Linked DNA regions of Homo sapiens: region 1 is linked to region 2. The links come from fine-mapping of genetic effects on gene expression. Tissue or cell type: monocytes. Region 2 holds a variant in brackets; the other region holds the start of a gene. All regions are shown on one strand. Distances are between the middles of the regions.

Region 1 (4,377 bases), 270 kb before region 2:
TGATTCTCTCTTCTTTATAACTCTTCTAAACTTTATCTTTTTTATAACCCACTGTATTGATCTATTGTCCCAGACCAAGAGTGATGTCAGAAGTCTAGGCTGGGTCATAAAAAGAATATAATTTCCATTTGCTGTCCATAAAAGCAAATCTTTTGATCAGAGAAAAAGGAAAAACATGTCCCCTTTTTTTGAGTGGGGAAGAGGGTGCGGTGCTATGTATCAGGGGAATAAGCCAGAGAGGAAGGGTGACCTCACCTTTAAGGGTGGTGGCAGGGATAGGCAAGGGGGTTGGTGATGGAGGGGGCTGGGAGTATGAGTTCCCCCTGGAGGTGACATCTCACCTCCAGGGGAAGTGGAAACAGAGGACCTCGAGCTTGCACAGAGGCAAAAACAAACAAACAAACAAACAAACAAACAAACAAAAAAGCAGACAGAAAAATGTAAAACAAGAAATCCAGTCACCCCGGTTGTCAAGAGTCCGAAGAATTGCAAAGGACCGGAACCTCCCTCTAGCCATGCTGAAGACCCTCTCCCCAAAGACAATCACAATAAAGGAATGTCATGTTGCAAAGAACGGAGCCCCGGATAATAATGATGATAACAACAGCAGAAACCTCCGAGGTTTTTAAGGATCCGGAGCCCCCACAGCAGGGGTAGGGCACCCTCAACAGTCATAACAATAAAACAAGCCCACTGGGGGAAAAGGCCCTCCAGAGGTTTGGTTCAGAACCAAATAACAAAACCTCCAATAATCATCATCACAGTAAAAGGGTTTCACCTTGCAAAGCTGTGGGGGAGTCCCTATAATTGGGTTAAAGACCCCCCAGATAATAACAACAGAAATCCCTATTCCAAAGGACCTGAGGCCCCGCCCTCGGCCCCCGCCCGTAAAGAACCCTGAGCTACTACTCAGACGAAGCCCCCCTCCCCGCCAATAATAATAATATAATGGCGCGGAAACTGTGGGCGGTGGTGGTGACATTTCCCACGACTCAGTGGCGCCCCCGGGCGGCTCCCACCCTCCCTCCGGCCGGCGCGTCTACGCAGCCCCAAGTGCTGGCTGCGACCCTCGGATCCCAAGCATATCTGGCGATGGAGCGGCGGCAGCCCGAGGCACGTGTTGTGTGTGCTCCGATTGCAAAAGAAAAAAAAATGCATTTCAAACTATTAACTTTTTTTTAAGCGTGCAATGCCGGGAGCTGGGGGTAGACAGGTGCAAGCGGGGGTAGGCGCCCCGCGCGCCCGCCTCCCGCAGCGCCCCCTCCCAAACTTCCCTTTGCATTGATCAGCACGTTACGTCAGTATTGATAAGTTTGCAAAAAGCCAAAGTCAAGTGCAATCGCGCGGCACACCGACCCCGGACTTGGGGGGGAGATGCAGCGAGCGCTCCGCGGGCCCGGGAGCCGGCGGCAGGCAGGGCAGCGGCGGCGCCGGCGCCTCTCGGAGAGGCTGCCTCCCCCCAACCCCTCCCCTCCCACCCCATCCCCGGCTGCCTCCCCCGGGCGGGCGCCGAGCTCCCCGCCCGGCGCGCTCCGCCCGCGCCCTCCGGGGGTCGGGGGGGCGCACGGCTCCCGGGCCCGTTGGCGGCGGCGGCGGCGGCGGCGCGGCGGCGGCGAGGGGCAGCGGGTGGCAGGAGGCCGGAGGGCGCCCGAGGGGCCCCGGGCCGCGGCGCTCAGGGCCCGGGCGGCCGGCGGCGGCCCCGGGGCTGGGGGGAGTCCAGCCCGGATATTGAGTGCAGCCATTGAGAAAAGCCAAACTCTTGTGTGTGCGCGTCTCGATAGCCCCCAAGATGGCCGCCAATGTGGGATCGATGTTTCAATATTGGAAGCGATTTGATCTACGGCGACTCCAGGTTAGTGCGGGCAGCGCCGGCCGCGCGGCCGTGAGGAGCCCCCGGGCGCGCCCTGGGCGCATTGGGGAGGTCCCCGGGCGGGCAGGCGGACGCCCTGGGGCGGCGGGCGGCGGCTGCCGGGGCTCGCCGGGGCTCGGCCGCCCGCTGCCCATCGATAGGTATTAGGAATTGATCTCGCCGCTGCTCTTTGTTCGGTTCAGTCATCGATTAGCTGCCGCGACCATGGAGAAGCGCTAGTGAGCCCTCGGTCGGCGGAGCGGCCGAGCGGCCAGGCGGCCGGGCGAGGAGCGGGGAAGGCAGGGGCTACGGCCTCGGGCAGGGGGCTGCTGGCGGGAACCCCCGGCGGTCCCCCCTGAGCCGCACTTTGCGCGCCTCCCAACTTCGCGGCGCCCGGGGAGGCCGCGGAGCGCGCCGCTTGCCAGTCCGCACCCGGCTGGGGCTCCGGCGAGGGAGGGAGGGAGCTGGCGGGCAGGGAGGAGGAGGAGGAGAGGAGGAGGAGGAGGAGAGAGGAGGAGGGAGCCGGGGTTGGCGAGGAGGCGGCTCCGCGCCCCGCCGCTCGCCGGCACCTCAGCCTTCGCCGCCCGCCTGGCTGCGCAGCCCGGACGCGCCGCCACCCGGGGGCCGCCGCCGCCGCCGCCAGAGCCGCCGCCGCCGGACTGGCCGCAAGCGCCGGCAGACCTCTTCTCCTCGGGCCGGGGTCTTGGGGTTCGTCTTGCTTCTTGCCTTTACCCCCCCGCCCCTTCCATCCCCTTCCCAAGTCTAGATGCAGACGGGCGGTGGAGGTGGGCCCGGGCGCTCGCAAGTTTGCGCTCCTGCCTCCAGGGCGGTGGAGAGCCGGGAGCGGCGCAGAGCAGGTGACTCCCAGCCCTCGGGCCCAAGGGAACTTTTAAATGAGAGATTTCCTTGCTTGTTCTGCCTCCTGCGTTTCTCCCCGCTGCTCCCCTCGTCTCCTCTCTCCCGTCTCTGCTTTTCTTCTGTTTCTTTCCTCTCTTCCCTGCTCTTTCTCTCTCCTTCCCTAGGGCGACTCTTCGAAACCCCATCACTTTCTCCCCATCCTCCCTTTGTGGGAGTCTGTGTGCCTCCCCTAGATTTGGAGGTGTTCTCTGCGGACCCCGTAGGAGCCGGGGCTGGGAGGTGGAATCTCAGAGAACGCACCGTGGAGGCGCGGCTCCGGCCTCTGTTCTTTCCCGGAGTGCCCCGGACGCGCCTGGCAAGGCCCCCCAGCCTTGGAGTCTCGCAAAGTCTCGGCGGGTGCGGCGGGGATCAGGGGCGGGAAAATGGTGCGGATAACAGGGCGGTTAGAGCATCCTGCCTTGACCGTGACATTCGCGGAAGACGCGAGATCATCAGTCTGGAGATAAAAAGGGACCCACTTTTTTTTTTTTTTTTAATCCGCCGGCAAATCTCGTTAAGTTTCTTCTGATAAGTGGTTCCAGCACCCGCGCCTTCTCCCCGTCCTGGCCGCTTCCCAGTCCCCGTCCTTCCGAACGCCCCACTCCTCGCTCTCCCCCTCCCCCAAAGCCATTGAGCTGGGGAGAAAATCGGGGCACTGAGGCATGCAGTTAATAACTGCCGAGTGCCTTGCAATTCCGGGTCCGCACTCGAGTTGGGGCTACAGTTTGGTGGCCAACTGAGACGGGCAGGGCTGCGAGCTGTGCCTGCCGGCTTAAATGATGCTAAAGTGGCCTTTCTGGAAGAGTGGGGGTTATGGAGGCAGAGAGAGAGAGAGAGAGGGAGAATTGGGCAGCCACATTGGGCTTGGCACGAAGGCCAATGGTAATCGTATTCCCTGCTAATGTTTGTAAATGAGACCCGGGCACGGCTGGGGGACAGCGTCTTTATTTATGATTGATGTTCTGTAACATAAGGAATGACAAGAACGTGGCACACAAGAGGAGAGGAACCAGAAGGGCTGGCGAAAGCCCTTTGCAGGGTCCTATTGTTATTCTGGGCTGGAGAAAATTTCCGCGGCGAGATTTACAGCGCTGGTATTTGCTCCCGGTCGGCCGGAATGTCAGTTAACACAATTTTCATTAGATAACTCGTTTTCAATCCGGGGAGCTCGGGCTGCAGCCCGGGGAGAGGCAGGGGCTGGGTGCTGAGGGGAGGGTGCGGCTCCCAGGGGGCTAATGTCTGAACTAGGGAGGTTGGAACCTCACTGTCTTCAGTCTTCTACCCAAGGGGTCTTTTGTGGAACGGTTGAGGTCACCCAAATCTTGATTCCAGCTGGACGCCCATTAATCTGGGAACCCTTTGTTAGGGTTTTAGAAGATGCATAGATGGAAAGCAAATTTGAACTGGAAAGGATAAAGGTAGGGGGTGGTGGAGGGGTTTGTTCAGGTGATGGGGAGATAGGACCCAGACCTCCCAGCCTACAGGGTGTATATGTGAAGGGGGGGGTTGTTCGTTAAAACAATGGCTAGTGTGTCTGGCACACAGGAGAAGGCTCTCAGGGAAGGGGGGTAAACTCATTTACATCGATATTAAGTGGAGGGGGTGTCCCTGTGGGAGTTTGCAAGGCAGCA
Region 2 (4,377 bases):
GGCTGCTGAAGGACGTGCAGCACCTCCAGAGCTCACTGCAGGAGCTGGAGGAGGCATCCGCCAACCAGATCGCCGACCTGGAGCGGCAGCTCACGGCCAAGTCCGAGGCCATAGAAGTGGGTCCTGGGGAGGAGGCAGGCGGGCAGGCGGCCCCATGCAGAAGCACACAGACCAGCCTCACCATCTTTCTTTGCTCTTCTAGAAGCTGGAAGAGAAGCTCCAGGCCCAGTCTGACTATGAGGAAATTAAAACGGAGCTGAGGTACCATGTGGGGTGGGGCTCCACAGACCCTCAGTGCTCTTCCCTGGCCAGGAGCTCTTGGCAAAGTTCATCATCTTCCTCCCTCCTACTAAACCCCATTTGTTCTTCTCTCCACTAACACTGTGGATATCAAACCTTAACCATCCTCAGGCCAGGTGCAGTGGCTCATCCCTGTAATCCCAACACTTTGGGAGGCCCAGGCAGGAGGATCGCTTGAGGTCAGGAGTTTGAGACCAGCCTGGGCAACAATGGGGAGACCCCATCTCTGTGAGAAAAAAACAATTTTAATTAGCCAGGAGTGGTGGTGATGCGTGCTGTAGTCCCAGCCACTCAGGAGGCTGATGTGGGAGGATTGCTTGAGCCTGAGAGGTCAAGGCTGCAGTGAGCTGTGGTGGCACCACTGCACTCCAGCCTGGACAACACAGTGAGACCCTGTCTCAAAAACAAAACGAAATTCAACCATCTTCAGTCCTTTTCCATTAAGAGCTGCCTGTACGGGCAGATCACCTGAGGTCAGGAGTTCAAAACCAGCCTGGCCGAAAGGGCAAAACCCTGTCTCTACTAAAAATACAGAAATTAGCCAGGTGTGGTGGCGCTCACCTGTAGTCCCAGCTACTTGGGAGGCTGAGGCAGGAGAATCGCTTGAACCTGGGAGGCAGAGATCGTGCCACTGCACTCCAGCCTGGGTGACAGAGTGAGACTCCATCTCAAAGAAAAAAAGAAGCTGCCTGTAGACCATACAAGGGAACTTATTATAGGCATGGTAACTGGAAGGTGATTCATTAACCAGCTAAACTCAAGCTGGCCAGAATGGGTCAGTTCAGGCAGCACCCCTCCAGGTAACATCGCCACCTGTTAATGAGCCTGCTACTTCAGGCCTGGGGTTGCAATGACTCTGGAATTAATGGGGTTCTGGGGAATGGAGCAGTCATTGTCAGGGAGGTAAGCCGGGTCAGTGCCTCTTGAAAGACCTCTCCTCCAGCCCGGGGGCTGGCTGACCTCAGACCCTCTCCACTTGCTCTGGCAGCATCCTGAAAGCCATGAAGCTGGCCTCCAGCACCTGCAGCCTCCCCCAGGTAAGTGTCCCTGCCACCATCCCTGCAGGGCAGGCTGCCCCAGTGAGCCTTCCGCCCACCAGGTGCCCTCTCAACCTGCCTCTTGTCTCCTAGGGCATGGCCAAGCCTGAAGACTCACTGCTTATTGCAAAGGAGGCCTTCTTCCCCACGCAGAAATTCCTTCTGGAGAAGCCCAGCCTCCTGGCCAGCCCTGGTAGGGGAGGAGGATACTCTGGGGCTGAGGGCTGGGGCGGGGGCTGCCTGTGGGTCTCTGGCCTTCTCATGCCCAAGGACCACTGCCTTCCATGCAGGCAGGAGAACGACAGAACAACAGGTGTGCATTGATTTGGCACCTGCTGTATGCCTGTCCTGCAGGGCATCCACAAACACCCACGTCATCGTTGGGGTCACACAGCTGGTTTGGGCCCTTCCAAGGCCCCCTAAAGAGCTCCACTCCCCACTGAGCCTTCTTGAGCTGCAGCGGCTTTCATGAAGTGGTCACAGGGGGACAAGCAGGGCATTGTCATTACACCCCCCACAGCCGACCACTGTGGGGAGCAGTAGGCTGCGGACATGATCACCCTGTCAGCCACCCGCTGACTTTTTTTTTGAGACCGAGTCTCTCTCTGTCGCCCAGGCTGGAGTGCAGTGGTGTGATCTCGGCTCACTGCAGCCTCCGCCTCCTGGGTTCAAGCAATTCACCTGCCTCGGCCTCCTGAGTAGCTGGGATTACAGGCATGCACCACCACACCCAGCTAAGTTTTATATTTTTAGCAGAGATGGGGTTTCATCACATTGGCCAGGCTGGTCTCAAACTCCTGACCTCAGGTGATCCGCCTGCCTCAGCCTCCCAAAGTGCTGGGATTACAGGCATAAGCCACCGCACCCAGCCACCCACTGAACTTTTAGCCTTGTGGCCCCAGGCAGGACACTGTGCTGCCTCTGTTTCCTCATCCATAAAATGGGTGTGACCTTGGGGCCCACTTCATGGGTGCCATGTAGGTCTAGTGAGTCAGCTCCAGGGTGGGTGCCCAGCAAGGGCCCATCTGCAGGTGGTGGCAAGTTCGACTTCCCACCCCAGGCCAAGGTGCTGGGCCCATAGCAAGTTCTCAGCTGATGCTCTTGGTGATGGGGGTGGGGCGCTCCCCAGAACTGGCATTTGGATGGGGCCTGGAAGAGTGGGAGTTGGAGAATGGAGGGGGTAGGGCAGAAAGAGCCAAGGTCGGCGCTTCCAGCTGCTGGACGCCTATAGCACTGCTCCCCACCCC[C/T]ACCTCCCCACCAACCCCTTCCCTCCTCCTCCTCCTTCCTTCCTCTATTTCTGACTTTCTGTCTCTATATATGTCTCTGTCTCTCTCTGTCTCTTCCCCCCCGACCCTCTCCCTGCCTCTCTCTGTCATGTGGTTTTTCACTCTGTCTCTTTGTCTCTTTATCTCTCTCTCTCTCTCTCATGTGGTCTCTCTGTCTTGCTCTCCCTCTCTCTCTCTCTGTCCCTCTCATGTGATTTCTCTCTCTGTCTCTCTCATTGTCTCTTTCTTTCTCTCACATGTGGTCTCTGTCTCGCTCTCCCTCTCTCTCTCTGTCTCTCTGATGTGGTTTCTCTCTCTGTCTCTCTTTCTCGTTGTCTCTCTCTGTCTCTCTCCCCCTCTGGTTCTTTTTCTCCCTGTCTCTCTCTCCCCTCATCATCGTCTTCCCCGTCTGTCTGTCTGTCTGTCTGTCTGGGTGTTCTAGAGGAAGACCCATCAGAGGACGATTCCATCAAGGATTCACTGGGCACGGAGCAGTCCTACCCCTCCCCTCAGCAGCTCCCACCTCCACCAGGGCCAGAAGACCCCCTGTCTCCCAGCCCCGGGCAGCCCCTGCTGGGCCCCAGCTTGGGGCCTGACGGCACTCGGACTTTCTCGCTGTCCCCCTTCCCCAGCCTGGCATCAGGGGAGAGACTGATGATGCCCCCAGCCGCCTTCAAGGGAGAGGCGGGCGGCCTGCTGGTGTTCCCCCCAGCCTTCTATGGCGCCAAGCCCCCCACAGCCCCTGCCACCCCGGCCCCTGGCCCTGAGCCACTGGGCGGTCCTGAGCCCGCGGATGGTGGTGGGGGCGGAGCGGCGGGGCCCGGGGCAGAGGAGGAGCAGCTGGACACGGCAGAGATCGCCTTCCAGGTGAAGGAGCAGCTGCTGAAACACAACATCGGGCAGCGGGTGTTTGGGCATTACGTGCTGGGGCTGTCGCAGGGCTCGGTCAGCGAGATCCTAGCCCGGCCCAAGCCCTGGCGCAAGCTCACGGTGAAGGGCAAGGAGCCCTTCATCAAGATGAAGCAGTTCCTGTCGGATGAGCAGAATGTACTGGCGCTCAGGACCATCCAAGTGCGGCAGCGAGGTGAGTGCCCAAGAGGGCCCGTCCCCGCTGGCCACCACGCCAGGTCCAGGGCATCAGGGCTGGGGGCTGAGGACACGCGCTCTGGGTTCAAAGCCCAGCTCTACCACCACCTGGCTGTGTGACCCAGGGCCAGTGGCTTTGCCTGTCTGTGCCTCAGTTTCCCCTCTGTAAAAGCAGGAAATACATCCTCGCTCTCTCCTTCCTGGCCCTGGCCAGAGACAGTCTGCCCTTCCTGGGGCACTCAGGGTAAGGGTGGCGGGAAAAGGCTCCAGGCGCTGCCCTGGCAGGTATTCATCCAGCACTTCCAAGCCTCAGTTTATACATTTGTAAGACCGCCAACCTTACCAGACTTGATTTTTCAGGTAATCAGTATGAAGGGTCCCAGCTGTGGCCTCACAAATGCCTGAGTTTGAGTCCCAGCTCTGCTGTTCACCCACTGGGTGACCTCAGACAACTCCTTTCACCTGTGCCCCGGTTTCTGCATCTGTCAGCCTCCAGGAGGCACCATGAGGATTAAACGGGCATCAAGCACTGACCACAGCACCTGGCATGCAGTGCTGCTTGAGAACTGTTAGGGGTGGTGGTTGCCATAGTCATTGTCGTCATCATTTCTTTTTTTTTTTGAGATGGAATCTCACTCTGTCACCCAGGCTGGAGTGTAGTGGCACAAGCTCAGCTCACTGCAACCTCT

Which allele goes with the higher level. Positions count from the first base shown, and alleles are read on the strand shown. Sizes are in standard deviations (SD) of each study's normalised expression.
In carriers of allele C in region 2, the expression in monocytes of the gene that starts at base 1,777 in region 1 tends to be higher than with T alone (large effect, 1.2 SD a copy in Quach 2016).

Evidence for each region. PIP is the estimated chance that this variant, and not a neighbour inherited with it, causes the effect. A credible set is the group of variants that fine-mapping cannot tell apart.
Region 1: it holds the start of CUX2, and the variant in region 2 is the best candidate, but not a certain one, in a credible set for the expression of CUX2 in monocytes (Quach 2016, PIP 0.83).

Annotation. Positions count from the first base shown.
Region 1 is chr12:111,032,389-111,036,765 of GRCh38, forward strand. It overlaps CUX2 (cut like homeobox 2), which reads left to right and starts at 1,777. Exons shown (of 22, transcript NM_015267.4): 1 at 1,777-1,852. The coding sequence starts at 1,790.
Region 2 is chr12:111,306,997-111,311,373 of GRCh38, forward strand. It overlaps CUX2 (cut like homeobox 2), which reads left to right. Exons shown (of 22, transcript NM_015267.4): 11 at 1-116; 12 at 203-261; 13 at 1,289-1,337; 14 at 1,431-1,530; 15 at 3,045-3,686. All of the region lies in intron 2 of LOC105369983 (a long non-coding RNA gene), which reads right to left. Among named protein-coding and RNA genes, the nearest start is that of MIR6760, 5.0 kb to the left of the region's middle. The variant C/T (reference allele first, on the strand shown) is at 2,585.